7 linked regions of the Homo sapiens genome follow. The protein of the gene in region 6 purifies or fractionates together with the protein of the main gene of each other region. This does not show direct contact. Each region holds a gene or a part of one and is shown on either strand. Other genes may lie near its edges.

Region 1 (3,765 bases), on a different chromosome or scaffold from region 6:
AACTTCACAGTTTCTTGGGAGGTGGGCCTTGAGGCATGCAAAGAACTTCTTCAGGTAGGCAAAGAAGAGAGGACACTCTTGGCAGAAAGAGTTGTTGAAAAAAGCAGTAGGGTGTGAAAATACATGGATGTTCAAGTATTTTGGTGAGGCTGTTATGTAAAGTGTTGTTGGTCTTTGGGGAAAATTGGCTTATGGAAATTCCTGCCAGAAGTACTAAGCCCTTATGGTGGTTCTTCCTGCCCTAGCTCTTGGTTGGTTTATATATAAGGAATATATTTGTGTATTTATATATCAGACATTTGGATGTACCTTTCAGTTATTTAGGATTTAGAAAATTCTTTTTGGATTTTCCAGAATTATTTTATCCTTCGGGGATGACAGTTATATGTGTATATACAACCCAGGATGACAAAATCATGGGTCCGGTTTTTGTTGCCAGGGCTGCTGTCTCTTTTCTTGCGGTCTTCATTTCTCACGAGGGTGCTGGGAACTTGATCAGTCCCCTGGCCTTTTGGCACTGTGGCAGAGTACACAAGTCATACCTTTATGGACAGTTAGCTCACAAAACAACTGCATAATCTGGGATCACTCTTGGTAAATCAGGTGGGTGGTGCAGCCAGGAGATCCCCTTTCCTGGTCACAACAGGAGCACAAAGAAACCATTATCTCCATGACTAGCTCCAGAAGCTGGGCCCAGGGAGTCGTGATGAGGAGTGGAGGTGTATTTGGCCTGTAGAATCAACGGCCTTTGAGAACCATACAATGCACCTTATATGGCTTGGGTGATCAAATAACTTAAGGTCCAAATTCAAACACTTTGGAAAAAGGGAGCTTTAATATAATTATGCCAAGGTGATAGGCATAAACTAAGACTGTCCTGGACGTAGGGTCACCCCTGTCTATAGCCATTTAAGATTTTTGAACCTGATGACTAAACAAACAAAACCCTCTTTCCTTTTTAGAATATCCTGTATGCGCTATTTCCCACCAGAGGCAGAGGCCACAGGAGATAGGCCATGGTTCAGGTAGGAAATGCTCTTGGTCACATCAGAACTCTAGATCTGGGGGAATAAACAAACCCGAATTATTACCACACTCTCAAAGTTCTCTTCAATCTGGACTATTTGTATTCCAAAGAAAAATTTAGTGCTTTAGCTATTCAGCAATATTGAGAAAAAACATGAACACATTTATGACTTTGCCTTGACCATTGACTTTTCTAAAATGTGCTTCCTTTTCCTTTATTTCCCTTTTTTTATACAAAGAAAATAGCCCAAATTTCTCCTCTTAGGTCATTCCTTAACCTCTCAGAGAACCAGTTTCCCCATGAATTGGGAATAATGCTCTATTTACAGGGCTGTTTGGATTAAATAAGATGCTGTTTATAAAGTGTCTGTGCCAGGGCAAAGCATGTGGTAGGTGCTTGGTGACAGCATGATCCCTGTCACCACTCTGTCAAGTCCAGTGTTGCTGAGATGTCACACCTGACACCCTCTAAGGCTACCCTGATTGCCAGGAGTGGCCCAGGGCCCTTCTGCAGTCTCCGGGTGCCTTTAGTTATAACCTCTTGTCTGGGTCAGACCATTAGCTTTCATGTCTGCTTCTAGCTACAACTGTAGCCTCCCTTCCTTTTGCCTTCAAATCTGCCACAGCTGCCCGGCAACAAAAAAAGATTCCTAAGCATCTCGAGGTCCTGTTTAAATGGGTTAGGGTCCAAGCAAGCCCTGAGACATCAAGTGGTTGGGTCTTTTATACCTTTTTCATCTCTACAGCCCTGTTCTCTTCCTAAGGCCAGGCCCACAGGGGATACTGAGGAACCACCAGCCCCTTCAGGCGGCACAGCAGACCCTGAAGAGAACTGCTCTAACTTAAGTACCTTCTGACTTCACCATTTTTCCAGCCTCTGGGTGTGGTTCTGATGAACCTTAAACTTGAAAGGCACAGGCCAGAGGAAGGACAGTGTTGACCCACATGTCATTGGTGAGGTTATGATCTCTTTGCTATTATCACCTACTTACCCACCTGAGGCTCCTAGGAAACAATGAATGAAAGGTATAGAAAAAAATTAGGAAGTAAACAGGGCTTTTTTCCCCTTTATGAAAAAAGTACACAGAAGTGTTGAAACGATTCAAGTTTAATTTGTTGATATATGTGTGTACTTAGACAAACACTAAATTCTACAACATACATAATGTCAACATGGGAAAATACCAAGTTTGTCATTGCACATACCAATAAATAAATACATTTGCTCCAGAATACCAAAGTTTATTCAAAAAGTCAATAAAAGCACAGTTTTGCAAATTTGTCTAAAACGCCAGATAATCTTGAACAAAAATAAAATGTCTGACCACTCCAAAATAGGAAAAGACAATCTTGTGCAAATAGACATACACAGTCTAGGCATTGTGAAAACTGGCTGTGTTCCCAGCAAGAGATACTGCACCCTCCTGACCGAGCAGTCAGGCTTCCCTTTCCTAGCCATCCTAAGTTGCGTTCTAGGAAACTCTGGATCTCAGCCTCATCTCCAGCTTTGCCTGGACCTTGCTAGGGGGAGGGAGGGACAGGAGCACAGAGGAGGAGAGGAGAGGGATGTGATGTCTTTCTTAGGAAAGAAAAAAAGGCACAGTGATGAGCTATAAAGGTAGTGATGAGAGCTATAAAGGTAGTGATGAAAGCAAGGAATAATTTTCATTCACCCCAAATCCTACGGCAAGCTTTGACAATGTAACATCTTTATCTTGTGGTTAGGAAAATGGACCTAGAGAGATTATGTGGTTTGCTCAAAATCACATAGCTACTAAGTGCAGTAGTGCTTTCTATAAGACCAACTTGCCTTTCCACTTGGTTGGAAAATTTAAAAACCAAACCTGTCGTAATCTATCTGTTCTGCCCCTCCCGCCTGTATCATGAGATGACTGAAAATTCCAGGTGGCCATAAACTCAAACAAGAGCCTAGCCCTTGGCTTATTACCGGTGGCTACTACAAACCTACAGACCAGAGCCCAGGGTAGTATAGAGTCCCAACTCTGGGCCCTGACTGCAGGTCATTCAGGTCCCAGTCACAGTGAAAGCAGACTCATTCAGCTATCTGGAGAAGTGTAATCTGAGGGCCACTTGGCATCCTGAGTTAACACAGGGATGCCGCAGCTGGGGTAAGGAATTAGAGAAGGGAAGGCCAGTGTTACTGCAGTAAGAGAAAACCAGGAAGTCCATCTAGGAGATGAAATTTGTGCTTGCATAACAGAGCCATGGAAATGGCTATCCCAGCATCTCCCCTCACTGCAGACTCCATTGTAAGCAAAGCATGGACCTTTTTCTTTGAAACCAACCCTGTCACTTGTTAAATTTAGAATTACCTCTAAATGCTAAGTTTATTTAAGAGGTAAATGTCCTGCTATTTTCAGAATGGAGAAAAAAAAAAAAAAACAACCTTCTGCTTCTAGAATTTTGTGCCCTACTTGTCACTGAAGGAGGCAGGCTCCGAAAGTTCTCTTATAGCTTCTGATTATCACAGTCCTGGCTTCCAACACCTGTGTTCGCCATAGATCTGGACATTATGTGCTTCCTCTGAACTAGTGTCTTGATTTTTAAGGCACATTCACTAGAGTATGTTCAATTTCAACCAAAAGCATACGTGCAACATACCAGTTTTTTCAGGCAATGCAGAGCGGGAACTGAAAAGCTAACAACATTCTTGGATGGTGTCCTCTGACTCAGAACCCTGAGAGAAAAAGCTGGTATCTTCCCAGGTATACCTTCTGT
Region 2 (5,030 bases), on a different chromosome or scaffold from region 6:
GATTTCCAGTTGAAACTCACAGAATTGCCCTTGTTTGATGAGAGAAAAGAGCAGGGGCATTGTGATGGAGAAGGACTCTGTGGTGAAGCTTTCCCAGGTGTTTTTCTGCTAAACATTTGACTAAAGCTGTAACAGAAAAGCTTTAGTTTAGAAACACTTAGAAAAGCTACTGTTTCTCAAAACCCTCTCTAATAAGCAGATGTTACCATTCTTTTTCCCTCCAGAAAGTCAGCAAGCAAAATACCTTGAGCATCCCAAAAACCTGCAGCCATGCCCTTGCTTTTGACTGTCTGCTTTTGCTTTAATTGGACCACTGCCACTTTGGGGGAGCCATTGCTTTGATTGTGCTTTAGGATCATACTCGTAAAGTCATGTTTCATCTCCTGTTACAATTTTTTGAGGAAATGGTTTAGGATCTTCATCCCACTTGTTTAAAGTTTCCATTGAAAGCTCTGCTCGCATCTGCAGCTGATCTGGGTACAACAGTTTGGGCAGCCATCAAGTGGAAAGTTTGCTCAACTTTAATTTTCAGTCAGAATTGTATAGGCTGAACTAGTTGTCTATGGTGTTCACTGTTGGTTCTGCTGTTAATTATAGGTACTCTTCATTTAGGGCACAAACGAGATGAATGTTTTCCTCGAAAATCGATGTGGATGGTCTGCCGCAGCAGGCTTCATCTTCAACATCATCTCATCCCTTAAAATGAGTTACTGATTTGTACACTGCTGATTTTCTGGGGGCATTGTCCCCATAAATAAAGCATCAGTGATTTCACCATTCTTCCAACCAACCTCCACCATAAATGTGGTGTTTGTTCTTGCTTTAGTTTTAGCAGAATTCATGTTGCTGTGGTAGAGGTTCTTTTCAAACTGTCTTATTCTTCTCAGTGTCTCAACTAGATCCTGTTTAGACATGAATGATAAGTTAGTATGAGTTTATTTTGGAAATACATTTTGCAAAAAAAAAAAAATTGAAATCCATGCATGGTTTTTGCACGATATGCATTTTCCATGAACTCTTTGAAAACCCCTTATATATGAGAATACTTACATAATGAGCATTCTTTGCTGAAACCTCTCTCCTAAGCTCCAGACCACATATATAAGTACTTGGTATGAAGGCTCCTAGATAGTGCCAAAGGTAGATATTTCACATTTAACATGAGCCAAAAAAAAAAAAAAAACTTCATTCTATCTCCCTTTCTTCTAATCGCTCATCTCTAGTGAAATTGTTTTGATTTGGCCTCCTAAATGTTTTGACGTTTTACCTCTCCATTCCCCTACCCTATACTTTTTCCAAGCTCTCCTTTCTGCTCACCTGGATTATTGCAGAAGTTTTCAAACTAATTTTCTTGCCTCAATATACATCCCTTTGATTTTTATCCAGAGGAATCCACTTAACCATATAAGATTATTTAACATCCCTCCTAAAAATCCTAAAGTGGCTCTCCTGTAACTTTTAGTTTATAAGTTCAAACTCTTTGTCTTAGCACATGAGGTACATGATGATCTGGCCCTGCTACCTTTCCACCCTCATCTCTTCTCACTTAATCACAGGCATCCTGTGGTCCAGCCATAGCAAGCTCTTTGCCTGAGACACACATGCTCTTACCTTTTCCCATGCTATTCCCTCTGCCTGGAATTTTCTTTTGGGCTTATCCTCATTCCCTTTCATTCATCCTTCCAACCTCCTACTCCAACCAAATCTGTCTTGATATCCCTATTCCAGACTGCCTCTGCTTGATGCCCCTTTTCTGGGCCCCATAACATTCTTGCAGCATTTATCACTCCCTGTCACTGTTTGTATCCCCTGGTATACTGAACAGCTTGGAAACAAAGATTTTCTCTTCTCTGTGCTCCCACTTGTTAGTACAAAGACTGACATAAATATTTTCTGAATGTATTCATGAATGAAAGGAAAGGAATGGTCTTTCTGAAATAGAGAATGGCATGAACAATGCATTGTGTTATAAAAGCAGAGTTGTATGGCATGACTTTTGGAGTCAGACATAATTGTAAGTCCTGGATCTCTCACTTACCACCTTTGTAAAATAGAGATGATAAAACTGTACTGGGAAATAATTTAGTTGTTCCAAAAGTAAATACTGAACAATACCATTATCTACAGTATGCAAGTCACTAGGTGTATATTCATGAATAAAATTAGCATGGTCCTGAACTCATGGATCTTAAAATCGAATATGGGAGACAGTAAACAGGTAAACAAATAAGTATATGATTACAAATACATTGTGCAGTGATGAAAGATAATTAGGTGAAGGGCAGCTAGACCTATTTAGATGTGGTCAAAGAAGTCCAAAGAGAAGAAGTGAATACTAACATAGAAGCCTCTGATACAGAGAAGCTTTTCGCTTTTTACTCTTTTTGATAGTTTTAGAATGTTGTTCCATATGAACACATTATTTACTCTAAAATTGTATTTTTAAAATATATATAGGGAAGCAAAAATAATTGACAGAAGAATATCTGAGTCTATTTGTCTTAATTGGAAGGAAAGATCATTTCCTATTGAGAATGAGGGACACGCAGAACAAATAAAATCCACATAGAAAGAAGTAAAGGTATGAAATAGTCACTAAGGACTATGAGAGAAGACAAGTGGAAGGATTAACGGCAGTGTTGAAGGCCCTGTGGAAAGGGGGTTACCATAAATTTGTATTCACATCAGCAACCCTGGTGTACAAGTAAAGTTGTTAGATTTATCCCTGGCTGCAGCTCTCCAGGATGGAGTAGCAGAAGTAAAGGGGGATTGCAGAAATAAAGATTCTGTCTAGAGAGTAGTTGAAGTGGTGAAGCACAGGTTTTGGCGTAGTAGCAAATGAATTGTGGTCAGGCAGATCTCATGGACTCAAAAAATGTGCAGAGGTCAAGGAAGAGCAAAGTATGTGAAAAGTGGGTGGGTGGACCATATCTGTTAATGCTACACAAATCATTTCAGTACGTTTTTTTTTTTTACTTCTACCAAAGAATGTTGCATAAATTTTAATTGTAAATAAGTACTAATTGAGAAACATAAATTGAAAGGTAAATGTTTTTATTAATAGATTTGATTTCTGAATATGCTAATTCTGATAGTTTGTTGATATTACTCTTAAGAATTTTTCTGGTAAGTTTTTTGCCCCTTTCTATAAATTTTACTAGGAAAATATCAGTGTCAGAAAAAAGTCCTCCGATTTTTATTGCTATTAATGGGTGGAAAAAGGAAGCAAACCCAGAGGATAATTGGACAAATGAATTACAATTTTAATTTCATCTTAGGATATCAATGACTTGACTTTGGAATGTTTCTTTATTATGGTATAATCAGTTGCTGACATTTCATATGATATAGCAAAGTGTGATATATAAGCTTACAGATGTCATCTCTAAAAGTACTGTAAAATTTTAATGAGATTTTTCCATATTTTAGGAATAGAAGATGAACAAACCCATAACACCATCAACATATGTGCGCTGCCTCAATGTTGGACTAATTAGGAAGCTGTCAGATTTTATTGATCCTCAAGAAGGATGGAAGAAGTTAGCTGTAGCTATTAAAAAACCATCTGGTGATGATAGATACAATCAGTTTCACATAAGGTAACAGATAAAATTCTTTGTATTTTTAAATTCTTACATCACAATATGGAATGATTAATTGGTATAAGTACTGTCTAATGTGGCAGTTTAGAAAGTAAACCTCTCCACTATGGAGGAGACATTGGTAGTAGGTAACCTCTTTTTGATTGTTCCTTTTGCAGTTTTGTCTTCTTTGTCCCATATGTCAATAGGGCTAATACTGTGATCTCTCAAATAAGTTTTTTGGGTTAGAATCAAGATTCCCACCTTTGCTGTGGTTCCCTGTTTGGCAAGCCAAGTGAAGTTCACTCTGCCTCACACTTCTCATTTCCAGATTGAAGGAAAATAAGAATGTTACAAGAATGTCTGGTAAAAATCTAGAGCTTAAATTTCAAAGTGTGTGAATCTCTAACACACTCTAACAATGTATTTTGGGACTTTTTCAATTTGACGTTTTAAAGTTGTTGCTTACAAGTGTACACTTCTGTGCACAGAATTCTTAAATCTTAGCTAGGATTTCTCAGTGCTGTCTTCAGATAATTTCAATTTTTCCTTTTTACTCATCTCTGCTCAATTTAGTGTAAAATATGCATGCATATTTTATTTTTGTCAGTCATTGCAGTTAAAACCTATGTCAAAATGTTTCTTTGGTAGCAAAAGGAAAAGAAGACTATTTGTTATTTTCAGCATTAATCTGGGAAAGAACCTAAAAGACTTGGCTCCCTTGCAGGAAATATTTCCTCATAAGAAGAGCGAACATGTTAAATTACTTGAAAGAAGCTTAAGTTTAAACTGTGTTAAGCCAATGTTTAAAGATAATTTTTTGATATTACTGTTAAAAACTTATGGAAGATAATTGGGGCAGTGGTGGCAGGAAGATAAAGCTCTTCTCTTTTTTTTTTCTTTTTTCCAAGACTCATTCCTGTGACAGAAAAAGCTTTTCTTTACAGAATAATACCTGCAAATAATTGTGAAAAGAATGGTAGAATGAGAAAAATACCTATTTGCAACCACCAATGAGTAACTGATTCATGCAAGGCTCATCACTGAACCTAAAAGCATAAGGTGAAAGGTGGTTGTTCTCGTGCATGTGAGCAGGATATGCACAAGATTTTAAAGTATTATAGGCTGAGCACAGTGGCTCATGCCTGTAATCCTAACACTTGTGGAGACCGAGGTGGGCAGATTGCTTGAGCCCAGGAGTTCAAGACCAGCCTGGACAACATGGTAAAACCCCATCACTACAAAAAATTAGCTGGGTGTGGTAGTGCACGCCTGTAGTCCCAGCTACTTGGGAGGTTGAGGTGGGAGGATCACCTGAGCCCAGGAAGTCAAGGCTGCAGTGAGCCATGATCATGCCACTGCACTCCAGCCTGAGTGACAGAGCAAGACCCCCTCAATAGATAGAGAAAAAGTATTGTACACAAATTACTTGTGAAGTATGAAAGAGAA
Region 3 (4,992 bases), on a different chromosome or scaffold from region 6:
GCTAACTCCTAATTTTACCAAATCAGGAAACACAAACCTAGAAACAGGTGATGATATAGGTGAATATGCCTCTGGAAATGGATAAGCATATGCTATGCAAAAAAATGACAATTTGCTGGTAGAAATGTAAATTGACGCAAGTTTAATAGCAGCATATGGCAAAATGTACTGAGATCCTTAAAAAAAGGTACACTAACTTCTTGATTTGGTAATTCTACTCTCTAAAATTTCTAAGGAAATAGTTAACATAAACAAATGTTTATAAAAATGCTCACTGCTGTTTTTGTTTGTAATAGCTAAAAAAAGGAAAAAGCTTTATATTATTGGAAGTAAAAGCAGCAGCTGGATGAGGTGGCTCACATGCCTGTAATCCCAACACCTGGGAGGCCGAGGCAGGAGGACTGCTTGAGTCCAAGAGTTTGATATCATCCTGGGCAACATAGTGAGACCCCATCTCTCTGAAAGACAAAAACAAAAAACAAAAAACAAAAAAACCAAAAAAACCCAAAAAACTGGGTGCGATGGGATATGTCTGTGGTCCCAGCTACTCGGGAGGCTGAGGTAGGAGGATCACTTGAGCCTGGGAGATCGAGGCTGCAGTGAGCCATGATTGTGCCACTGTACTTCAGCCTGCAACAGAGTGAGACCCTCTCTCAAAAAAAAAAAAAAAAAACAAAACAAAAAGCATTAGGAAGCTATATGTACCATGTGTTCAACAATGTAGATACAAATTTACGAAAAAAAGACAAAAGTATGACAAAATGATAACATTTATAAAAAGAAAAAAGTACACAATGAGTCCATTGCTTAAAGGAAGCAGCAAAATAACTAATAATAAAGTCAAAACTTATGTAATTTCAGAAAGCTGGGCCTGAGCCTAAAAGATGATGACCAGAGAAAGGATGAATGCAGAATATATAGTAATATGCTTTTGAAATTACTCCTAATAGTCATGACATGTAGCCTTTGCATGAATGCTGATGGATGCTTTTCTTATGCGCAATTTCAACACACTATAGTTCTAATATATCCAGGGCTAAATCTGTAACAAGATTTTACTTAACAACACTTCTCAGATTTGGCATACACTGACTGCATTAACCTCTAAGTAATATCCAAACAACAGACTGGATCCTCATATGTAATTATAAAAACAGCCATGGATTGTTGTAGTATACATCAACCCTGAAATGCAGTCACTGGGCATTTAAGTATTCAAATAGGTTACCAGGTACAATAGTATAATTAAGTTCAGGACCTGTGGACTTTTAAGGTAAAATGGGGATATGATTTTGCTCTTGAACATAAAAGCTCCAAGTACAAGTTATCTTTCAACTTTACTTAGCAGTTCCTGGTTAGTTAACTATGAATCTTGAAGAAAGTAAACTTATTTTATTTGTATATGAATTTTCAGTGCTTAGTACATACAACTATGAATTGAATAAGAAGAAAACTGTGATTTTCAGCATTGTACAAACTCCCAAAAAGAACTGACTTGCAAAGGAATTTAATCAGTTTCTAAACAAGACTGCCAATGTAAAGTAATTCAAACTTTTGAAGTTAATGAAAATATTTATTCAAACCTAACTGTAGTACAGTCTCAAGCTGAGTTAAATAAACATTAACTATATGATATTTAGTTCCTTAGGAATAGACCACTGCCACACCATACAAATTTCTTACATCACAAGTTTTTGCAGTAAGGTTCAGCAATTAAGAAGACATGATTTCTACACTGAGAAATGTTGTGTTAAAGTTGGATGGATTTATTTTTTTAAAGGCCCAGTACAAAAAAATGGTTGAGGAAAGTGACTCTTCAACAAAATATACACCTGTAGAAAAAAATCCCTAATATACTGATATTTAATTGAACGGAAAGTACTAAAGAGAACATACTTTAATATCTAGGCACAATTGGTCAGGTACTAATTATAATTTCTGTTCTCATTTAAAAGTTTAAACCAATTCTTCAACTGGACTGATGTGTGTGAGTCTAATACAGAGAAGGCACCTCTCTCATCTCTCACTCTCCTTAAGGACCTTTTGAGAGAAACTCTTTGTAACACTTTAAGGGACACAGACAATGCACTATATCTAAGTATAGATATAGTTATTTAACATACCCATTGTAGGAGAAACTAAAATATAAAACTATGATTTCTCTTTTTACATCTTATGATGGACACAACACCAGAAGATAATCCTCCACATAAACTCTCACATAGAACACAAGATTTAAATTATATGTGCATTGGTCACTACAATGTAAAGAGTTCTATGAATTAGTGCAATTCTTTAAATCCCCAGCATTTAGGGGAAAAGTACATACCGAGAAATCTCTACTACAAACCAAAATTTTATGGCTCAATAGTCTAACCACTTAAAGTTCTGTAAAAAATCTTAAGTTATAAATGAAAGATCAGAACATTCAATAAATGGTTTACAAAATTCTCTCTTTAAAACAAAGAGAACAGAGTGATCAGAGTAGGTAAAGTGTGAAATTCCAGAAATATAATACTTACAGCAATTATAAGAAAGGGGTAGTATTCACTCTAGGAAAAAAACTCATCAAACTGTTGATTTCTAATTAGATATTTTGCTATCAGTTGAGGTGGTTATTATTTTGTAGTACTTAGTGATTGTGTATTTAAATGTCTTATTGAATAGTTACTGAAGGTAATTTATAAGAATAAGCATCATTTTCCTCCAAAACAAGTGAGAAACTATTCCAGATGAGTAAGTCTCAGAATTAGGGATCATAAGAAGTCAAAAAACACAGTGTAAGAACATTAGGTTGATTTAACCTCTATTTCAACAAGATTTACACAGTATTTACAATATGGAATTGTCAAAGCTATACAGTTTTGCAGATTGGCTTTACTTACATTTCTGCAAACGTTTTTCCCAAAATAAAAATATACCAAGTAAGTCTATTTACAAACTAGGAAGCTGTTTCAGAAACAGCATGATTTAGATATAAAGTGAAGTTTCAGTACAATGAAAGTGCAGGTCATGCTTTCAGATTCTGTCAATATCCCATTCCCTACACTCAGTTTAAGGGATATGAGTTTTTAACACCTACTGTTCTTATGTGTCCAGAATGTTTACTCATCATAATGCAATGATAACAAAAATTTGTCTACATCCATTCCTGCTGGAAATGAACTGGGAAGCTTCTTTTTCTGTTGAAAAAGAGAAAGAAAAAATAAACTCAAAACAAGGCCAAAATGCTTTCTTAGTAAGTCACCTAAAACAGTATATTGGGTTCTTTCACATACTACTAAAATTGTCAAACTTTTTTAGTCTATTAGAATTTTACTTCTATAGAGAAGTAGAGACAAGTTTTATAAACCCAAAGTTACTTAAATATACTTCAATGGCACCTGAATGTTAGTTTATGGCAAAAGACATGATACAAATCCAGAGTGTCTGAATGTTGAATGAGACAAGATAGAACATGCTTTCTATGTTAGGTGGTTATTACTGCTTAGAAAGCTTTACTAACAGATGTTTAGGGTTACAGGTACTTATCAGTTCCAAAACTTAATATACACTAGATACTTTATGTATACTACATTTAGACTTCACAACCTAAGATACCTGGTAATATCATGTCAAGTGATGAGGCTGAGACTCAGAAAGGCTACAGACTTAACCATGATCACAGGACCAATAAGCAGTAGATGCAGGATTCAAACCCAGACTTGTAGGGCAACAAAGCCTAAATTATTTCCCTGATACCATACTTCCTCTATGATATTTTAAGCACTTTCTTTCTATTCAATCCACTTACTAAACAGCTAACCAAATCGAAAATAAATGGATTTCATTTATCAATGCTATCCCTGCACTGCCTTCCTAGAGACAACCATGCTTAAATAAAAAACATAAGGCCAGGCGCAGTGGCTCATGCTTGTAATCCCAGCACTTTGGGAGGCCAAGGTGCGCAGATCACTTGAGCTCAGGACTTCAAGACCAGCCTGGGCAACATGGCAAAAGACTGTCTCTATAAAAAAAAAAAACCAGAAAAAATGACCAGGCGTGGTGGCTCATGCCTGTAATCCCAGCATTCTGGGAGTCCGAGGTGGGTGGATCACAAGGTCAGGAGTTCAAGACTAGCCTGGCCAACACGGTGAAACCCCATCTCTACTAAACATACAAAAATTAGCTGGGTGTGGTGGCAGACACCTGTAATCCCAGCTACTCAGGGGGCTGAGGCAGGGAATTGCTTGAACTCAGGAGGCGGAAGTTGCAGTGAGGCAAGATCACGCCACCGTACTCTAGTGGGTAACAGCGCAAGACTCTGTCTCAAAAAAAAAAAAAAAAGGAAAAAATATTAGCCAGATGCAGTGGCGCATGCCTGTAGTCCCAGCTACTTGGGAAGCTGAGGTAGGAGAATCACTTCAGCCTGGAAGGCGGAGGCTGCAGTGAGCCAAGATCGTACCATTGCACTCCAGCCTGGGCAACGAGAGTGAAACCCTCTCTCAAAAAAATGGAAAAACATACGTAAATTTGATTTTTCCACTGCTCTAATATGCTAACATTTTTAAGGGCCTATGGAAGAGATTACAAGACGTGGGGGAAAAAAAAAACTGAACATCTAAGAACAAAGTCATTTATTACTTGGTAGTTCTACACAATAGTGTTTAATATTGTTTCCCAATCTTTCATGACTATGTCACGCTCATGAAAAAACTTGAGTTCTACCAAGAAAGAAAGAAAAACTTTTTCTTTTCCCCCGGAAAGATGTTTATAAACAAATGCCTCAGCAGTTTTTCCTGAAAATGCTGTTTCACCTAGACACCTTGTGCGTACTACACTAACACTGCTGGACTGCTTTGTTGCCCTACAAGTCTGAGTTTGAATCCTGCATCTACTGCTTATTGGTCCTGTGATCATGGTTATGTATTTTGTCAATGAAAACTAAAAGCTGTCTTAGCCATAACGTTCAGTCAAGTTGTTGTGGCAAGAACTGCTGAATTCGCTAATCAC
Region 4 (4,072 bases), on a different chromosome or scaffold from region 6:
ACCAGATAAATATTGATTGTTCTTTCAAAGAAATATTGTAACATGTGAAGTAGCCATACCAGCCCTTTGCTACTTGGGAAACTACTGTATGTAACAAGAGTTTTAGAGATTTAAGATGTTTAAGAAGGCAAGAGTATAAGCTTCCTAGGGTCTTATTCCCCTTGTAAATATTCCATGCTAGCAGTGGTGCTACTTTCAGCTATTTTATGAACTGGTTTTTATTTTTGAATATTTAAGAAAATACTGAAATGCTTAACTAGCATTCTTTTTCTTTAGGTATGGGCTATTCCATGTATCGGGAATTCTGGGCAAAACCTAAGCCTTAGAAGAAGAGATGCTGTCTTGGTCTTGTTGGAGGAGCTTGCTTTAGTTAGATGTCTTATTATTAAAGTTACCTATTATTGTTGGAAATAAACTAATTTGTATGGGTTTAGATGGTAACATGGCATTTTGAATATTGGCTTCCTTTCTTGCAGGCTTGATTTGCTTGGTGACCGAATTACTAGTGACTAGTTTACTAACTAGGTCATTCAAGGAAGTCAAGTTAACTTAAACATGTCACCTAAATGCACTTGATGGTGTTGAAATGTCCACCTTCTTAAATTTTTAAGATGAACTTAGTTCTAAAGAAGATAACAGGCCAATCCTGAAGGTACTCCCTGTTTGCTGCAGAATGTCAGATATTTTGGATGTTGCATAAGAGTCCTATTTGCCCCAGTTAATTCAACTTTTGTCTGCCTGTTTTGTGGACTGGCTGGCTCTGTTAGAACTCTGTCCAAAAAGTGCATGGAATATAACTTGTAAAGCTTCCCACAATTGACAATATATATGCATGTGTTTAAACCAAATCCAGAAAGCTTAAACAATAGAGCTGCATAATAGTATTTATTAAAGAATCACAACTGTAAACATGAGAATAATTTAAGGATTCTAGTTTAGTTTTTTGTAATTGCAAATTATATTTTTGCTGCTGATATATTAGAATAATTTTTAAATGTCATCTTGAAATAGAAATATGTATTTTAAGCACTCACGCAAAGGTAAATGAACACGTTTTAAATGTGTGTGTTGCTAATTTTTTCCATAAGAATTGTAAACATTGAACTGAACAAATTACCTATAATGGATTTGGTTAATGACTTATGAGCAAGCTGGTTTGGCCAGACAGTATACCCAAACTTTTATATAATATACAGAAGGCTATCACACTTGTGAAATTCTCTTGTCTAATCTGAATTTGCATTCCATGGTGTTAACATGGTATATGTATTGTTATTAAAGTAAGTGACCCATGTCAAATGTCTTTTATTTATTTCATGAGGAAAAGCTTTCTGTAGAGGAACAAATTTGAGAACAAGTTTCAGGAAATTGTCTTTTTTGTTGTTGTTCTCTAATCATGTTCTCCTTTCTGTTTCAACGATTTTAAAAATATTTTACTTTATGGTATGTTTTATTTTTTTTCCTTTTGTGGGTAATTTTTGTTCTATTGATTATCCATATAAATTTTTTTTTTTTTTTTTTGAGACGGAGTTATTCTCTGTCATCTTGGCTGGCGTGCAGTGGCACGATCTTGGCTCACTGCAACTTCCATCCCCCAGGTTCAAGTGATTCTCTTGCCTCAGCCTCCTGAGTAGCTGTGATTACAGGCATGCACCAACATGCCTGGCTAATTTTTGTATATTTAGTAGAGACGAGGTTTCACCATGTTGGCCAGGCTGATCTTGAATTCCTGACCTCAGGTTATCCACCTGCCTCGGCCTCCCAAAGTGCTAGGATTACAGGCGTGAGCCACCACGCCCAGCTGATTATCCATATAATTATAACACTCTTCTATTTATTTTCAGTCACCAATAATTCCTTTTGAGCAATATTTAAGCCTAGCATATTTCTTCCTTCCCTCCTCCTCTACTAACCAGTTCTGGTCGATATATTATTGGATTTTACTCTTATACTGTTTGTTTGTTTGTTTGTTTGTTTATTTTGAGACAGAGTCTTGCTCTGTTGCTGAGGCTGGAGTACAGTGGTGTGATCTGAGCTCACGGCACCCTCCACCTCCTAGCTTCGTGCGATTCTGATGCTTCAACCTTCCGAGTAGCTGGGATTACAGGCATGCGCCACCATGTCGGGCTAATTTTTGTGTTTTTAGTAAAGGCGAGGTTTCACCATGTTGGATGATCTTGAACTCCTGGCTTCAAGAGATCTATCTGCCTCAGCCTCCCAAAGTGCTGGGATTACAAGCATAATCCACCACACCTGACCTACTTTTGTATGTTAAATGTGATTATACTTCTCTTTGACTTGTCAGCTTAGCTTTAGCTGATACACTCTGGTGCCCAACTATTATTGTATCAGTGAACTTCCACTTTCTTTTCCTTTTCTCTCAATTTTTGTTGTATCATTCCTACCTTGTGAGGACATATAATATTTACATTCTGTTGTCATCCTCACATTTCTTAGTTCCACAGTTTAAATGTATTTGAAACTCAAAACATTCCCATTAATCTCTTGGTCAGCTGAAATTAATGATTTAATAGTTTCCTTAAAAAAGACTCATGGAACAATTTCCCTAAATTTTTGCCATGTCAAATATGTTTATCTGTAGCCTTTACACAGTAAAAACAATTTGGCTAGATAATACAATTCTCAGTTCATATTTTTCTTTGGAATATTAAAGTATTGCTATAGAGAAGCCTAAAGTCATGTGACATTTTTCTTACATAAGTGATTTGATTTTTTGCTTGGCTGCTCAAATTATTCCTTTATCAAGTCCAATAACTCTAACAGGTCTTGGTATTGACCTTTCTGGGTCAGTTTTCACTACATTTTCAGAAAATTTTCATTCTATTTAATAGATGAATACTCTTGGTTTTGTTTAAATAACTAATTTGAGAGTCATTGATCTAGACAAATGGCAGAGGATAGGGGGAGAAGAACAAGTGAAGGGTTAAGATGTTAATGAGTGTTCATGAGAAATTTGTGGGATTGTGTGCCTGAAAAGAATGGTAAATGGTACATTAGGTGGTTCAAGTGGATGTGATACTATTTTTTATTGAATGAGAGCTGGGTTCATGGTTCTGCCACTCCTAACCAAGCAGCCATGGTTTCTTATCTATAAAATGGGGACAGTATCAGTGGCGTAGGGTTGTTGGGATTAAATACAATACTGACTATAAAGGGCTTACTTAGCATAGCACCCAGTGCATTAGTAAGCTCAATAAATGGTTGCTGTTTCCATTATTACTGTGTTAACTGTGGGAATGCAGTAGCACAGGAGACACATGAGCCTTGCTTTCAGAATTTATAGTCTAGCAGGGAAGGCTGGCATTAAATAAGTGATTACAATTGTAGGGGCCAAGGGAAAACTTTACCTTCACCCTCTGAAGGTTTACTGAAAAATCAACTGACAAAAGGCAGATTATTAGGAGAAAAAACATGCAATTATTTTAATGTGTATATCACAGGGGAATGGCATAATGACTACTCAGTAACCCAATAGGGTACAGATGTTTATATATCCTTCTTCATAGGGGAAGGGGAGATGGAGGAAATGTGGCAATTTGAGGGATAATGAGTTATTTTTAGGGGGATTCAGTGGACTTAAAGAACATACGATGGCCTAAGACAAAGTCTGTTTGGCCTACAGGGCAGATAATAGTTTGTGACAAGTCTGTCCAGATATGTTGACAGATTTGTCTCTCTTCCTGCAATATGAATTAAACTAATGAAAACTCCGTGCCGGTGCAGTGGCTCACACCTGTAATCCCAGCACTTCGGGAGGCCGAGGCAGGCGGATCACTTGAGGTCAGGAGTTTGAGACCAGCCTGGCCAACATGGTGAAACCCCCTCTCTACTAAAAAAAATACAAAAATTAGCCGGGCATGGTGGCATGCACCTGTAGTCCCAGCTACTCATGAGGCTGAGGTGGGAGAATTGCTTGAACCTAGGAGATCACGCCACTGCACTCCAGTTTGAGCAACAGAGCGAGACTCCATCTCAAAAAAAAAAAAAAACAAAAAACGGAAAGGACCAGGAGTAATTTTCCCCCCGCCTTTGGCAGGTCTAGACTTTAAGC
Region 5 (3,772 bases), on a different chromosome or scaffold from region 6:
GGGCAGACGTGTCTGGTGGGACAGAGCCTGGGCCACAGCCTTGCACCTGCAGAACCCATTGTACAAACACACAGTGCATGGAAGAGGAACCTGCAGCCCAGCACAAAGCTGCTCAAACAGAAACCAAACCAAAAGCTAACCTCAGCCAATTCAGAGGCAGGTCCACATCTGAACCAAGAGCTCTCCCAGCAAATTGGCCTGGAAAGCCCTTCTCACATCAAGGCAGGAAGATAATAATGACCCTCATCTTTCAAAAGAGGAAGCTGAGACACTGAGAGGGTAGGTCCCCTGAAGGTCATACAGCTCTTAAATGCTGGGGCCAGGATTCCAACGCAGGCAGGGAGGCCCGGATCTGAGCTCACAGTGACCACACCCCAGCCTCTGTGAACTGAATTTACGCAATGTCTGGGAAGAAAAGGCAGGGTCCACTCCGCTCAGAGCCATGCAGGGCAGTGTGCTCCCGTCTCCCCGGCATTTGAATCACTCTTGTGGTGTGTGTCCAGCACAGATGCACGGGACCCCTCAGGCCCATATCCTCAAACAGGTAGTGGTGGGGCACCAGTGCACGAACACTAGGGCTCAGCAGTCAGCCTGGGCGGGTCACAGTTCCGATACCCTCCAGGCTGTCTGGGAGGCGGCCTGGCTGTGGGACCAGTTCTCATGTGAAGCAATGAAGCCACTCTGAGCTTGGCCCCCTGCCCTGGCATGGGCACTGGGCTGCCTGTGTGAAACTCTTGTTTCTCCAGGTGCAAGACAAACCTGGCACTCTTTCTGGCTTCTCCATTCACTTGCCGGGGGCAGGTGGCCAAGCCTGGTTTCATCTCCTTGGGGGGGAATGGAATACTCTCCACATTCAACCCAAAAACAGCCCCAGCAAAGGGCTGACATGGGAGGGAGAGGGGCAGGGTGGCGCCACGCACCCACGGGCACCCAATGCTTTGACGCCGAGACCCAAGCATCTCTCTCAGACATCCCTTCTCATACCAGAAACAGAGCCCACGTATACCAGTCAGACCTGCAGTCAGGCCCATTCACGAGTCAGGCCCATTCACCAGTCAGAAACCACACAGCCACTTATTTGAACAGGGGAAGTTTAATATAAAGATGAACTCTACTCGGAGCATAGAGTTTAAAAAGAGTTCTACACAACACCCTAGGGATGAGGAAGAATGCCTCAGGGAAGAAAGCACAGAAAAGGAGGTGCCCTCCCGAGGCTGGGACTGAGACCTCCTCGCTGGAGAAGGTGTGGGAGGCCCCTGAGGGTGAAGTTCCCCGGGTTGCTCGAGCCAGAGTCTGCACAGTCATAGGGCAAGCAGAAAATTCTTTCGAGAGGGTGGGCGCTCACAGGGAATCGGGAAGCAGAGCCCACCTGCCTACACCTGAAAGGCCACAGCCGGTGCTGGGACCTCTCTGAGGTCTGCAGACTCCAGGCAGAGCACTCCTGGCAGCTGTGCAGCAGGAGCAGGAAGGAAACGACATGAAAGCCCCTTTCTCCCCAGTGTCCCAGTTCAACACCGTGCACGCTACCAAGGAGAAACGGCGCACGGGCCCCACCCACGACTGCAGAGCAGGCAGGGGAGGGGGATCTAGAGCTGAAAGGCAATACATGGATAACGCGCACGCCCCACTCCCACTTTTATTTAGCAAGAGTAAATGCAGCCTAATGACAGGGCGTGGGAAGACCTCCTGCTCACCAGTGTGGGCAGAGTGTAGCGTGGCCTGGGCTCCTAATACAGGTAAATTGTCTCCAAAGGACTAGTAAAGGTGACTGGGTCATCCTCCTGCCCCAGGGACACTGATTAGAGAAAATCCGTCTGTGCTGGCAATACGGCAGTGCTGGACACTCGGAATTCCCTTGAAGGCAAAAGCAAGGAACAGAGCGTGATTAGGTACTGGACACCTGCCAAGTGCTGGGCTCTCTCCAGTTTACAGATGAGGAAACTGAGGCTCCTCGAGTTGGAGCTGGGATGCCAGCCCCCATGGACCTGGCAGAACACGCTCTTGACAGCCCCACAGGGCTTCTCCCTAGGGCGTGCCCTTAGAAGATTCCAGGCAGCAGGCGGTAAGGCACTGCGGCGGTGTAGCGCTCCCAGTCCCGGCCGTACTTGCTGGCGCAGCGGTGCTCGTCCCGGAGGCAGCGGTGGGTCAGCAGGATGGCCATGTAGATGATGTAGAAGTAGGGCAGCAGGTGGCCGCCGCCACAGGCCAGGCAGTAGGCCAGGCTGCCCATCAGGTCGCCGACGTAGTTGAAGTGGCGGGCCACGCCCCAGAAGCCCGACACCAGCAGCTTGCTGTGGTGCCTCTGCCCATCGGCGGATGTGTAGGAGCACTCGATGACCTTGGGCTTCCTGCCCCAGATGAGGCAGCGCCCATCCGTGCGGCGGAACAGGTCCTTCTGGTGGTTGGCCACCCGGAAGATGTAGTAGCCCACCAGGCCCAGCAGCAGGACGCCCACGGCGTGCGGGGTGGACAGCTGCACGGGGTGGTACACCAAGTACAGACCCTGGGGGGCGAGGGGGAAGGGGTCAAGCGGTGCTTTGCCCAGGGAGAGGACAGGAGTGTGGGCTCGGGGGCCCAGCGGCCTGGGGTCAAACCCCAGCTCTGCCTCTGACACACGCCTTGCCTCCGTGTTCTCTTCTGTGAATAAAAGCACCAACCTTGAGGGCTGTTGTGGTCATTAAATGAGTAACTCTACCTGCCTTCTACCTGTCTGTGTGTGTATGTGTGTGTGTATATATACCCCCTATATATATGACATATAGCATAAACATCAAATATGTAACAGTATTAAAAATATAATCTGAATTTAATATTGTGATGGTCAATTTAACGTGTCCACTTGGCCAGGCCATTGTTCCCAGATATTTGGTCAAACACTAGTTGTAAAGGCATTTTTCAGATGAGGTTCATATGTTAATCAGTCAACCAGGCAGAGTGGATGACCCTTCACAATGGGGGTGGGCCTCATCCAATCAGTTGACAGCTTTAAGAGACAGAAGACCCACCTTCCCCAAAGAAGAGGGAATCTGCTAAAAAGTGGCCTTCTGGCCATGCACAGTGGCTCACACCTGTAATCCCAGCACTTTGGGAGGCCAAGGCGGGCGGATCACGAGATCAGGAGTTTGAGACCAGCCTGACTAACATGGTGAAACCCCATCTCTACTAAAAGTACAAAAATTAGCTGGGCGTGGTGGCATGCACCTGTAATCCCAGCTACTCGGGAGGCTGAGGCAGGAGAATCACTTGAACCCAGGAGGTGGAGGTTGCAGTGAGCCAAGATCACACCACTGCACTCTAGCCTGTGTGACAGAGCGAGACTCCGTCTCAAAAAAAAAAAAAAAGTGACCTTCTATTTAAGCACAGCATCAACTCTTCCCTGGGGCTCCAGGCTGCCCTGAAGATCTTGGACTTGTCACTCTTCAATCACATGAGTTGAAAAATACATCTCTTTCTTACACGTATACCCTCCACCCCTCTATTGATTCTGCTTCTTGGGAGAAACCTAATATATAGTATAAAAAATGTACATCTCGAGACACACACAGAGGCTAAAGCAAGTAAGAGCTATTATATAGTGGGACCTATTGCTACGTTTTCACATCCTTGGAAAATGGAGTTTATAAAACCAGGGAACCAGCAGACCTGCAGCCAGCCAGGTGGAGAAATGGGGCCGGGTGGGCCATGCGGGGGGCTCCAAGGACCTGGTGTGAGCATGGGGCCAGCTGGGGCTCTGCACCCTCCACCTGGTACTGGCCCCCTCTGCTGTGGGAAT
Region 6 (4,647 bases):
CCACCACACCTGGCTAATTGTTTGTATTTTTAGTAGAGATGGGGTTTCACTATGTTGGCCATGGTGGTCAACGAACTCCTGACCTCAAGTGATCTACCCACCTTAGCCTCCCAAAGTGCTGGGATTACAGGCTTGAGCTACCGCTCCCGGCCAAGAAAAACTATTTTAAAACAAATATGCTCACCAATATTGTAGAGCTGGAACAAATCATTTGAGATAATTTCATCATTTTCAGTTAAACATTAGAACTAACCTAAATGATTTAATTATTAAGAGAGTTTTATCAAGCAACAAGCTTAGACTATAACACTTTAAGTATTGGTCCAGAAGCCTTTAAAGTATGTCTTTAATGGAGAAAAATTACATCTGGTTCCAAAAACTTGGGAGGTTATTTTAAAAACCAACATTCATAAGTTGGGAGACATGAACATAGCCAAGCAGATTCTCTTCTTTCAGAATTGTAATTCAACTTTAAAATTTGTGAAATTGAATAAAAATAAAATTGGTGGTTATCAGTGTGTAGTGACTTATTTTTCTTCTTGTTAACAGAATGGAAGTATTATGGAAGGCTTAGCTTTATGGAAAAATAACGTAGACAAACGTTTTGAGGGTGTTGAAGATTGCATGATCTGTTTCTCAGTCATTCACGGTTTCAACTATTCCCTTCCCAAAAAAGCCTGTAGAACATGCAAGAAAAAATTCCATTCAGCCTGCTTGGTAAGTCTAAAGAGAAATTAACTTACTTATATTTTATGTATTTTATACACATAAACACACACACACACACACACACACACACACACACCTACACAATGTCTAACTTCGGAAGAGAAAATGTGTGTTAAACTTAATTGTAGCTAATGGGAGATATATTAAAAAGTGATTTTTTAAAATCTGCCAAAGATAATTAGCAGTTTACTGAGACTGGTAGAATCAAGGCCCTCTAATAAATGGGTGTTTCCAGTGACCTTTTACCACTCAAGAAGTAGAAGGTCTTCTGAGATCTAGACCATGAAGGAGAGTACAGGAGTTGGTACTGGAAGCCATCTGGCATCAGAGCCCTGTGCTCTTTTTAAACATACTGAAAAAGAAGTTGCCATTTGTTCATTTGTTTCACAGGAGATTTCTTATATCTTAGTGATTGTGTGCATGAGCCTAAGTAGGAAGAACTTAGTGTAGCCATCGGAAGTAATACTCAATTTGTGTTAATTTTGGAGATAACAGAAAGAGCAAAAATTTTATTGTTCTTCCCTTTTCACTTTATCATTTGAAGGTTACTATAGATGTATGTGTACTTTATGATGTATGTTAGAGGAGAACTTTAAAAGTTCTTTTAGTATTTAAAACCTTTTCTTTTTCAGTACAAATGGTTTACATCTAGCAACAAATCCACTTGTCCACTGTGTCGTGAGACGTTTTTCTGAGATTTTTTTCACTGGAAGGGATCCCTGAAGTACATCAAACAAAGGCATTGGATTTGGATCCGTCTGAAAGTGTGGATGTGGGGAAGCCAGTGAGCATTACTTTTAAATAGGACCTTCTCTGGAAAATTATTTTGGTTAATGTAATAATCCTAAAATCAGGTTTACTTAACTTTAGATTGCTTTGTAAATGTTTGGAAACTTTCTTTTACAAAAGAATATTACATATTTGAGAGAAAATATTTCTATTAATGGTTTAATTTCTTTGTATATTTAAAAATAAATATGAAAAACCCCTAAATTACAGAATTGGAATTTGTGAAAAGATTGCACAACTATATTATTGATAAACCCATTCCGTTTGTTGATCTGTGTTTTAGAATAGTCCAAGTGAAGCAAAACGAACTGAGAGAGCTGATTTACATCTATAGATATTTTAAGCCTTATTTATTAGTTATGACAATAAATTAGTATTCTGATATTTGTAGATTATTTTAATGATAAAAATGACACTAAGCTATTAATACGGCTTGTCTTAAGATATCTGGAGGCATGCTCTGAAATCCTATATAAAAGAGTTTAAACTGAACTTTAAGGTGCCTCCATTTATCAAGGGTTATGAAACTCAGAAAATTAAATTCTTGATGCTGACCTTTTTGCTTGTGGGAGAATTATTTCTATATATTAGTGAAATTTGAATTGTAAACTTGTCAGTGAATTTATCACTCTGAGCGAGTCTCTAGAGGGTGAGAATTTGAGAGAAATAGTAATTTGATTATTTCATTCATGAAGCGGAGTGGTAGTTATCCTTCTATTGAGAGGGAAGAAATAAATGAGTATTACTGAAACTTAAAGATCAGTGGAAAAAAAAAACATTTAAAAATGTTGTAGGAGACTTTCAATTTTGGAAGCAAACTGAGCTATTCTTACCAGCCAAAGTTATACTAAATAAGAGACTTGGGGGAGCAAATGTTTTTCAGCCTTCAGAAATGAAAGTTAAGGATTTTAGCACTAGGTAAAATTCAGTATAATAGGCTGAAGTGGAGTAAGTGAAAACCTGCCTTTTGCCACTCTTAAAAATTGTGCCCAAAATATAAAAGTGTGGAACTTTAGAACTTGGAATAATTTTATTGCAGTCTTCCATTACATGGAAATAGCATATCTAATATCTAGGTTACTTGAGAGACCAGCTAATCATCTCTGTTGCACATGTTTAATTGGCAAAAAGCAATTCATGATAAATAAAATTACTGCTTTCCATCTACTGGGTAAAATGACTATTGAAATAGTATGAATGTGGTCAGAGGATTATAGTTGAGAGTGAAGTACTATGTGTGAGTTATAGATCTCTCGAATTATATTTATAGATGCAGTGTCCTGCCCAGTTTTGTTTGCCTCCTACATTTTACTGTAAAATATTTATTGTCTTCTAGCCTTGAGCCTCTGAGGGTCAGTAAGTGAAGTACAGATAGCAAAATTTTACTACCTCGTTAACCCTTTTCTTAAAATATTCTCTATCTTTCTATGTCTCTTTCTGACATAGTAATCCCAAAGGATTGTGTTACTCCCCGTGAAAGTTATTACTTTTCCTTTAAAAATGGTTTTATAATAAGACTGTTTAAAACCTTTCCAGTATTGGTACATCTTGGCTTCTGGCCCAAACCCCAAGCAGAAAAGAAAATGGAATAATGGAGCATTGTTTTTCCACATTAGTATTAGGGCATCAGATTCTTGGTGAAACACTATAATTAAGTAGTTATAATTAAATAACTGTTCTTCATACTTAGGACTCTTAATACATTTCTTTAAGACTTGTAAGTATAATTGTAAAGCTTGTTAACTGTTTATATACTAAAGAAAAAGCTTTACAAGATAAGACTGAAATTCAGAATACCACATCTGTACAGCGTTGACAACTCTAACTAAAAGGATTACAGCCCTTAAAATTTTAGCTTAAGGACATTTTAAAATTGCATGAGATTAGCAAAATTATTAATTTAAAACCCCAAAGTAAATTGCAAATTTTAAAATTTATTTTTGACTCTTTTATCACATGCTCCAATGTATGTACATAAGTGTCTGTGGCTTAAATAATATGTTGTTATTTGATACATTTTTGTGGTGCAAGTAATTAATGTTATTATTTGATTGTTATACCATATGTGCCCATTAAAATTCTTTTTAATTAAAAATATTTCAAATATGCAGAAAAATAATAATATAAATGCCCTTGTACCCTTCACATACTATTTTGCCATATTTGCTTCTGATTTTTAAATAAATAAAATGTTACTCTTTTGTACTTCTCCCTGGCGCCATTCTCCTCCTTCTTTCCCTAGAGCTAACGTACTAATTCTGAAGTTGGTGTGACTCCTTCCTGTTTAAGATTTTATACTTTACCATGTGTTTTTATCCAGAAACAATGTATAATAGTTAACAAAAATTATGTTAATGATGTTTTATGTATGTAATCTTTTGTAACCTGATTTTCCACTCAACATAATGCTGTTTAGTGTCATATCAGTTTACTTACCAGTTCCCTTACTAAAGATTGTTTAAATTGTTATTTTTTTGCCATTTTGAACAGTGCTGCAAGTGTACATTCTTGATCATGTCACCTCATGCAGATGTGCTAGATATTCTAGACATATGTCTAAAAATGGAATTTCAGCCCGGCACGGTGGCTCACGCCTGTAATCCCAGCACTTTAGGAGGCCGAGGTGGGAGGATCACCTGAGGTCAGGAGTTTGAGACCAGCCTGGCCAACATGGTGAAACCCCGTCTCTAGTAGAAGTAAAAAAAAAATTAGCCAGGCATGGTGGTGTGCACCTGTAATCCCAGCTACTTAGGGAGGTTGCAGTGAGCCCAGATCGTGGCACTGCACTGCAGCTTGGGCAACAGAGCAATCAAGACTCAGTCTGAAAAAAAAAAAAAAAAAAAAAAAAAAATTTTATATATATATATATATATATATAAAATAAATAAAAATGGATTTCCAGGTAGTAGGATGTGTATACTCTGTCACTTTAGATGTCTTCAAATTGCCCTCCAAAGTGATATGCAAGTTTGCTCTCCCAGCTGCAGTTTAAGAGAATTCTGGTTTTCCTATCTTGTCACCAACACGTAGTCTTATCAGAATTTTTAAGTTCTGCAGTCTGAAAGCTATGAGATAGTAGCTCTTTGTTTTAACTTATATTTCCTTAAGAAGCCTAGCTTCATTTCATAT
Region 7 (4,721 bases), on a different chromosome or scaffold from region 6:
CAGTGACCACCATTCCAAGCCACATTTTCTTCACCAACACGTATCAGTGTTGCTCAAAAGAAACGAGCTCCACCAATACTGTGTGTCATACCAATCTGTCTCGGCCTTTCACAGTATTGAACTATGCATACCCAGGTAGGCTAGAGTTCCAGGTGAAGAAAAAATAAAGCTTACATCTAAAGGAAGTTCAATTATGGCAGCACTTTTCCAAGTGTGGTAGGCCAACCACCTGAGTTGAAGAAATCACTCTGAGAGTTTATTAAAAATGTGAATTGCTGGACATATCCACAAACCAATGAATTACAATGCATAGGAGTAAGATTCAGAAATCTACAATTTAAAGACGATCCCAACATAGATTTTTGAACACTAAATTGGAGACCCAATCTAAATCTTGATAAAGTTACAGGACATCACAGAAATCCATCTTGGGAAGGCTATTATTAATGCTATAGTCACAATATTAGCAGACTTGATTAGTCTGTCACTGACTTCAACTGCAGCTTCTACTGCTCATGGCTTGGATAATATGGTTGTTCACAGAAATGTCCTGATCTCCAAGTTGTTTCCTTCCTTTTTCGTCTTTTAAAACAATTTAGTGTTCCTTTTTCTCATAGCATACTTACTATAAAATATGTGGAGAACACAGAAAATGTAAGAAAAATCAAAAGTACCTGTAAGTCCACTAATCAGGGTTAACAACCAATAGCATGGGTGCATTTTCTTTTAGTATTTTTCTCTTCACATGTAAATAATTAAAGCATGTACACAGTTTTAAATTCTACTTTTAACATATCTAAGTAAACGTTTTCCTGAAGCTTTGGCCTCATTAACAAAGCATGTTGTCATAATTATACTATAATTCATTTAACACATCCTATTCATTTAACTGTCCATTTTTCATCATTATAAACAATGCTAAAATCAAATATCCTTGACTGCCTCTCTACATCCTAGAAAAGATTCATAAGGCTCTTGATACATACTACCAAGCTGTTCCACTAATCATCATTGGAGCTGCCCATCTCACTCATACTGTGAAAACTTTTAAAAGTCTGAAGGCCCAAGTCAAATGCCATATTCTTCATGAAGCACTCTTAAAGACAATCTCATTCGAAATTAACCTTTCTCTGGCAATCTCATGGCTCTTTGAGATTAATTTGGGACACTACTCTTGTATATGTCCTACTACACCGTGATTGCCAAATATCTATTCATCTCTGTATCTACCACTATCTCTATCAAGAACTGTGCACACAGCACACATTCAACACACACCAGATTACTTTACTGACATTCTTTTCTTCAACCTGACGATCTTTGATCTGATACATCCCCAGAAACTGGTGCTTTCAAAGCCAAATCCTCCAAACTGACTCCATGTCCTAAACAATTTCTACTTCTCCACCAACTGTACCATTAATTACCTTTTGTTCTCTTGTTTAATTCAAGATCAAGGAGGTATGCAAGCAGAGAATCCCAGCACGGATCCCTAAACCGAAATCTACAGGCATCACCAAGATTTCCACTAAAGCCCCCACAGTGCCTATGGATAAGCCTATTTACCAAAATGGCTGTGGGAAGCTACACATCGTGAGAACTGTCACCTCCAACACCTTCCTCCACGTGGGAGGGAGAAGGTAACTCATACCAATGCACTGCCTGGATACATTCATCTACAGAAATATGTGGAAAGCTAAAATTACCACTATGAAAGGCCAAAGGACCATCTCTCCAGGAAATGGTGAAGCAGCTTTGTGGACCTGATGAAGATCATCCCCCAAAAAGCAGCACGTCTACAATTATTTTACTTCTATATGTGTATATGCACACACAAACACTCGCAGGCCTAGACCCACACCCAAATCTACCCATTTCCTCATCCGACATATAATCTAACCCAAAGATGAACTATCTAGAATCAGCCTGGGATAGGACTGAATTCACTAGAACAGTTCAAGAGTTTTCTGGTGAAAACAGAAGTAATTCTTCATTCTACAGAACTTTGCTGATTAATCATATTTTGCTAAGAAAAGGTGATAGCAAAAATTCCTAATCTGAGTCAAGAAAATCAGATTATTTCCATCAAGATGACAGGACAATTAAAATCACACTTTAAGGTCTAAAACTATGATTTCTTTATGACCAGGAGGGAAAAAGCAAAGTGATAATTCTTAAAGGAGGAAAAGCATAACAAAAGTGAATAACAGCCGAATATATCCTTTGTGCAGAATACCTGACAATCACTGGTGTAGTAAGCATACCTGACCACTGGCACTTAGTCTCAGTAACATTGAGATATTTTAGGGAGACATGAATCAATATTCCAGGTGCTTGAAAAAATACAGAATTTATCATCTCACAGGACATTGTTTATTCATATCTCTTCTCTGAATAAACACTATCGAAAATCAGTTGATTCAACAAAAGCTTGGGGTTAGGAGACTCAAATTCCAATCCTAGATTTTCATTCATGTGACAACGAGCTTTGCATTCATCAATCTAAGCCTTGAGTTTCCACATGTAAAACAGGAAAGTGAAATAATTCCTCAGGTCCCTTCCAGTTCTGATAACCTATGAATATGCCCAACTATTAATACAAAATGTTGAATTCAAACAGTCATCTATAAGGGTAGACACAGTCCCCTGGCAGAAAGCTAAAGCAATTCTTTACATCACACTGAAAACTCTCTCATTGAATTGAGAGAAAGGTGTGCCTGTAATTCAGTGTGGACAGAGTAATACAGGACATTTTAAGACAAGGCATGTTTGACACAAAAGGCAGTTCAAAAAACATTTCAAAAAGCTTCAATCGAGGGGGGAAAAAAATCAATGGAACGACACTAAACATTTTTTGTGATCCTTCACTAAAAACTGGAAGCATGACCCTGGAAGAAATCCTCATGGTTAAGGACTGCTTTAGCCAGCTGCCCTGGGTTGGAGCCAGCAGAGCAAGAGTAAAGGAACTCCCATTCCCCATACTTATCTAACTAAGTCCACCTCATTGCACTAATGCCACTGTACAAACACCCCCAGGCCCCTGCAATTTCAAGGAGGAGAAGGAGCTAGAGGCCTGGGCAGCATTGAAAGGGATGATGGGCAGCATTGAGAGGGATGATGGGCAGCATTGAGAGGGATGATAGGCAGCATTGAGAGGGATGATGGGCAGCAGTCCCAGCAGGCAAGTGGCAGAGGGCAGTAGGGGGAGGTCAAGTGAATTAAAAGCCTGAAATGGAAAAGTCGAAGTGAAAGGAAAGCAGGAAGAGAATAGTAGAAGGGGATGGACTACAAAAGAAGGTGAAGACTGGGCATGGTGGCTCACGCCAGTAACCCCAGCACTTTGGGAGGCTGAGGTGAGAGGATTTCTTGAGGCCAGGAGCTCAAGACCAGTCTGGGCAACTTGGCAAGACCTTGTCTCTCCGAAAAGAAAAAAAAAAAAAAAAGCCAGGTGTGGTGGTGCACACCTGTAGTCCTAGCTAATTAGGAGGAAGAGGCAAGAGGACTGTTTGAGCCCAGAAGTCCGAGGCTGCAGTGAGCATGATCACACCACTGCACTCCAGACTGACTGACAGAGCAAGACCTTGTTTGTGGGGAAAAAAAAAAAAAAGGGTGCAGTGATGAAGCTCTAACATCAAAAAAAAAAAAATACACGTATGTACAGAGTGCTTAGTATTGTGCCTCACATAGAGCAGGTATTTGATAAATCTAGAGTGAATAGAGAATGAGTAAATGAAGAAGAGAAGGCCATTCAGTCAAGACATTTTCTCACTTGAGAAAACATGCTAAGAGATAGCAATGGTATGACAGGGTTAGGAAAAGTAGTTATGCCCAGGTGACATTCAACATTGGTAATTATGCTAATAGAAAAAAAACCCATTGGAATCCCTTAGTGAAAACCAAACAGGTTGAAAAGAAGCATAAAACAGGAAAAACAACATGCACTAACAATAGTCCCAGAAAAACAAAATACCTTGGGAAAAATTTTACTCTGAAATGAAGCACAAAATACGTTGTATGTTGAAGCTTTCAAAATTGTTTTCTCCCATGTCAGGAGACTTCCTAAAGTACATTTTTATCCAAGCTAGCATAAGTTTAAGAGGAAGCACAAAAAGAGGGACAAGATAGTATACAAAGTACTAAAAAATTTAGGTAGAAGCCAGGCACGGTGGCTCACGCCTGTAATCCCAGCACTTTGGGAGTCCGAGGCGGTGGATCACCTGAGGTTGGGAGTTCGAGACCAGCTTCACCAACGTGGAGAAACCTCGTCTCTACTAAAAATGCAAAATTAGCCGGGCATGGTGGCGCATGCCTGTAATCCCAGCTACTCCGGAGGCTGAGGCAGAAGAATCTGCTTGAACCTGGGAGGCGGAGGTTGCAGTGAGCCGAGATTGCGCCATTGCACTCCAGCCTGGGCAGTAAGAGCAAAACTCCGTCTCAAATTAAAAAAAGAAAAAATTTGCGTAGAAAAATGTTGACACTTCTATGGGAACCAGCAGAAACTCATCTTTAAATGGTAATGCAGTTCTAATCCCATTAAGACAAAAGTCTTCAAAGTAAAGTTACATTTGCCGGGTGCGGTGACTCACACCTGTAATCCCAGCACTTTGGGAGGCCAAGGCGGGCAGATCACATGAGGCCAGGAGTTTGAGGCCAGTCTGGTCAACATGGCGAAATTCCATCTCTATTAAAAACACAAAAATTAGCTGGGCTTGGTGGTGCAT

What was found.
Region 1: the proteins of LTN1 (region 6) and RIC3 purify together in Homo sapiens (co-immunoprecipitation; one large-scale study listed by IntAct). This does not show direct contact.
Region 2: the proteins of LTN1 (region 6) and IRAK4 fractionate together in Homo sapiens (co-fractionation; one large-scale study listed by BioGRID). This does not show direct contact.
Region 3: the proteins of LTN1 (region 6) and NPAT purify together in Homo sapiens (affinity purification with mass spectrometry; one large-scale study listed by BioGRID and IntAct). This does not show direct contact.
Region 4: the proteins of LTN1 (region 6) and HIGD1A purify together in Homo sapiens (affinity purification with mass spectrometry, with the first as the bait; one large-scale study listed by BioGRID). This does not show direct contact.
Region 5: the proteins of LTN1 (region 6) and DHCR7 purify together in Homo sapiens (affinity purification with mass spectrometry; one large-scale study listed by BioGRID and IntAct). This does not show direct contact.
Region 7: the proteins of LTN1 (region 6) and FILIP1L purify together in Homo sapiens (affinity purification with mass spectrometry, with the first as the bait; one large-scale study listed by BioGRID). This does not show direct contact.

Annotation. Positions count from the first base shown.
Region 1 is NC_000011.10:8,104,595-8,108,359, reverse strand, and holds the end of RIC3 (protein RIC-3 isoform a precursor), read left to right. Parts: 3' UTR 1-2,304; downstream 2,305-3,765. UniProt on the Homo sapiens protein: Molecular chaperone which facilitates proper subunit assembly and surface trafficking of alpha-7 (CHRNA7) and alpha-8 (CHRNA8) nicotinic acetylcholine receptors.
Region 2 is NC_000012.12:43,764,674-43,769,703, forward strand, and holds part of IRAK4 (interleukin-1 receptor-associated kinase 4), read left to right. Parts: intron 1-3,429; 5' UTR 3,430-3,438; coding exon 3,439-3,599; intron 3,600-5,030.
Region 3 is NC_000011.10:108,155,838-108,160,829, forward strand, and holds the end of NPAT (protein NPAT), read right to left. Parts: intron 3,183-4,992; coding exon 3,105-3,182; 3' UTR 1,378-3,104; downstream 1-1,377. UniProt on the Homo sapiens protein: Required for progression through the G1 and S phases of the cell cycle and for S phase entry. Activates transcription of the histone H2A, histone H2B, histone H3 and histone H4 genes in conjunction with MIZF.
Region 4 is NC_000003.12:42,781,525-42,785,596, reverse strand, and holds the end of HIGD1A (HIG1 domain family member 1A, mitochondrial), read left to right. Parts: intron 1-276; coding exon 277-326; 3' UTR 327-2,689; downstream 2,690-4,072. UniProt on the Homo sapiens protein: Proposed subunit of cytochrome c oxidase (COX, complex IV), which is the terminal component of the mitochondrial respiratory chain that catalyzes the reduction of oxygen to water. May play a role in the assembly of respiratory supercomplexes.
Region 5 is NC_000011.10:71,433,337-71,437,108, forward strand, and holds the end of DHCR7 (7-dehydrocholesterol reductase), read right to left. Parts: intron 2,638-3,772; coding exon of another isoform or gene 2,504-2,637; coding exon 2,039-2,503; 3' UTR 1,855-2,038; coding exon of another isoform or gene 1,774-1,854; 3' UTR 1,075-1,773; downstream 1-1,074. UniProt on the Homo sapiens protein: Oxidoreductase that catalyzes the last step of the cholesterol synthesis pathway, which transforms cholesta-5,7-dien-3beta-ol (7-dehydrocholesterol,7-DHC) into cholesterol by reducing the C7-C8 double bond of its sterol core.
Region 6 is NC_000021.9:28,927,225-28,931,871, reverse strand, and holds the end of LTN1 (E3 ubiquitin-protein ligase listerin), read left to right. Parts: intron 1-549; coding exon 550-717; intron 718-1,361; coding exon 1,362-1,424; 3' UTR 1,425-3,728; downstream 3,729-4,647.
Region 7 is NC_000003.12:99,827,337-99,832,057, reverse strand, and holds the end of FILIP1L (filamin A-interacting protein 1-like), read left to right. Parts: intron 1-1,452; coding exon 1,453-1,644; 3' UTR 1,645-3,247; downstream 3,248-4,721.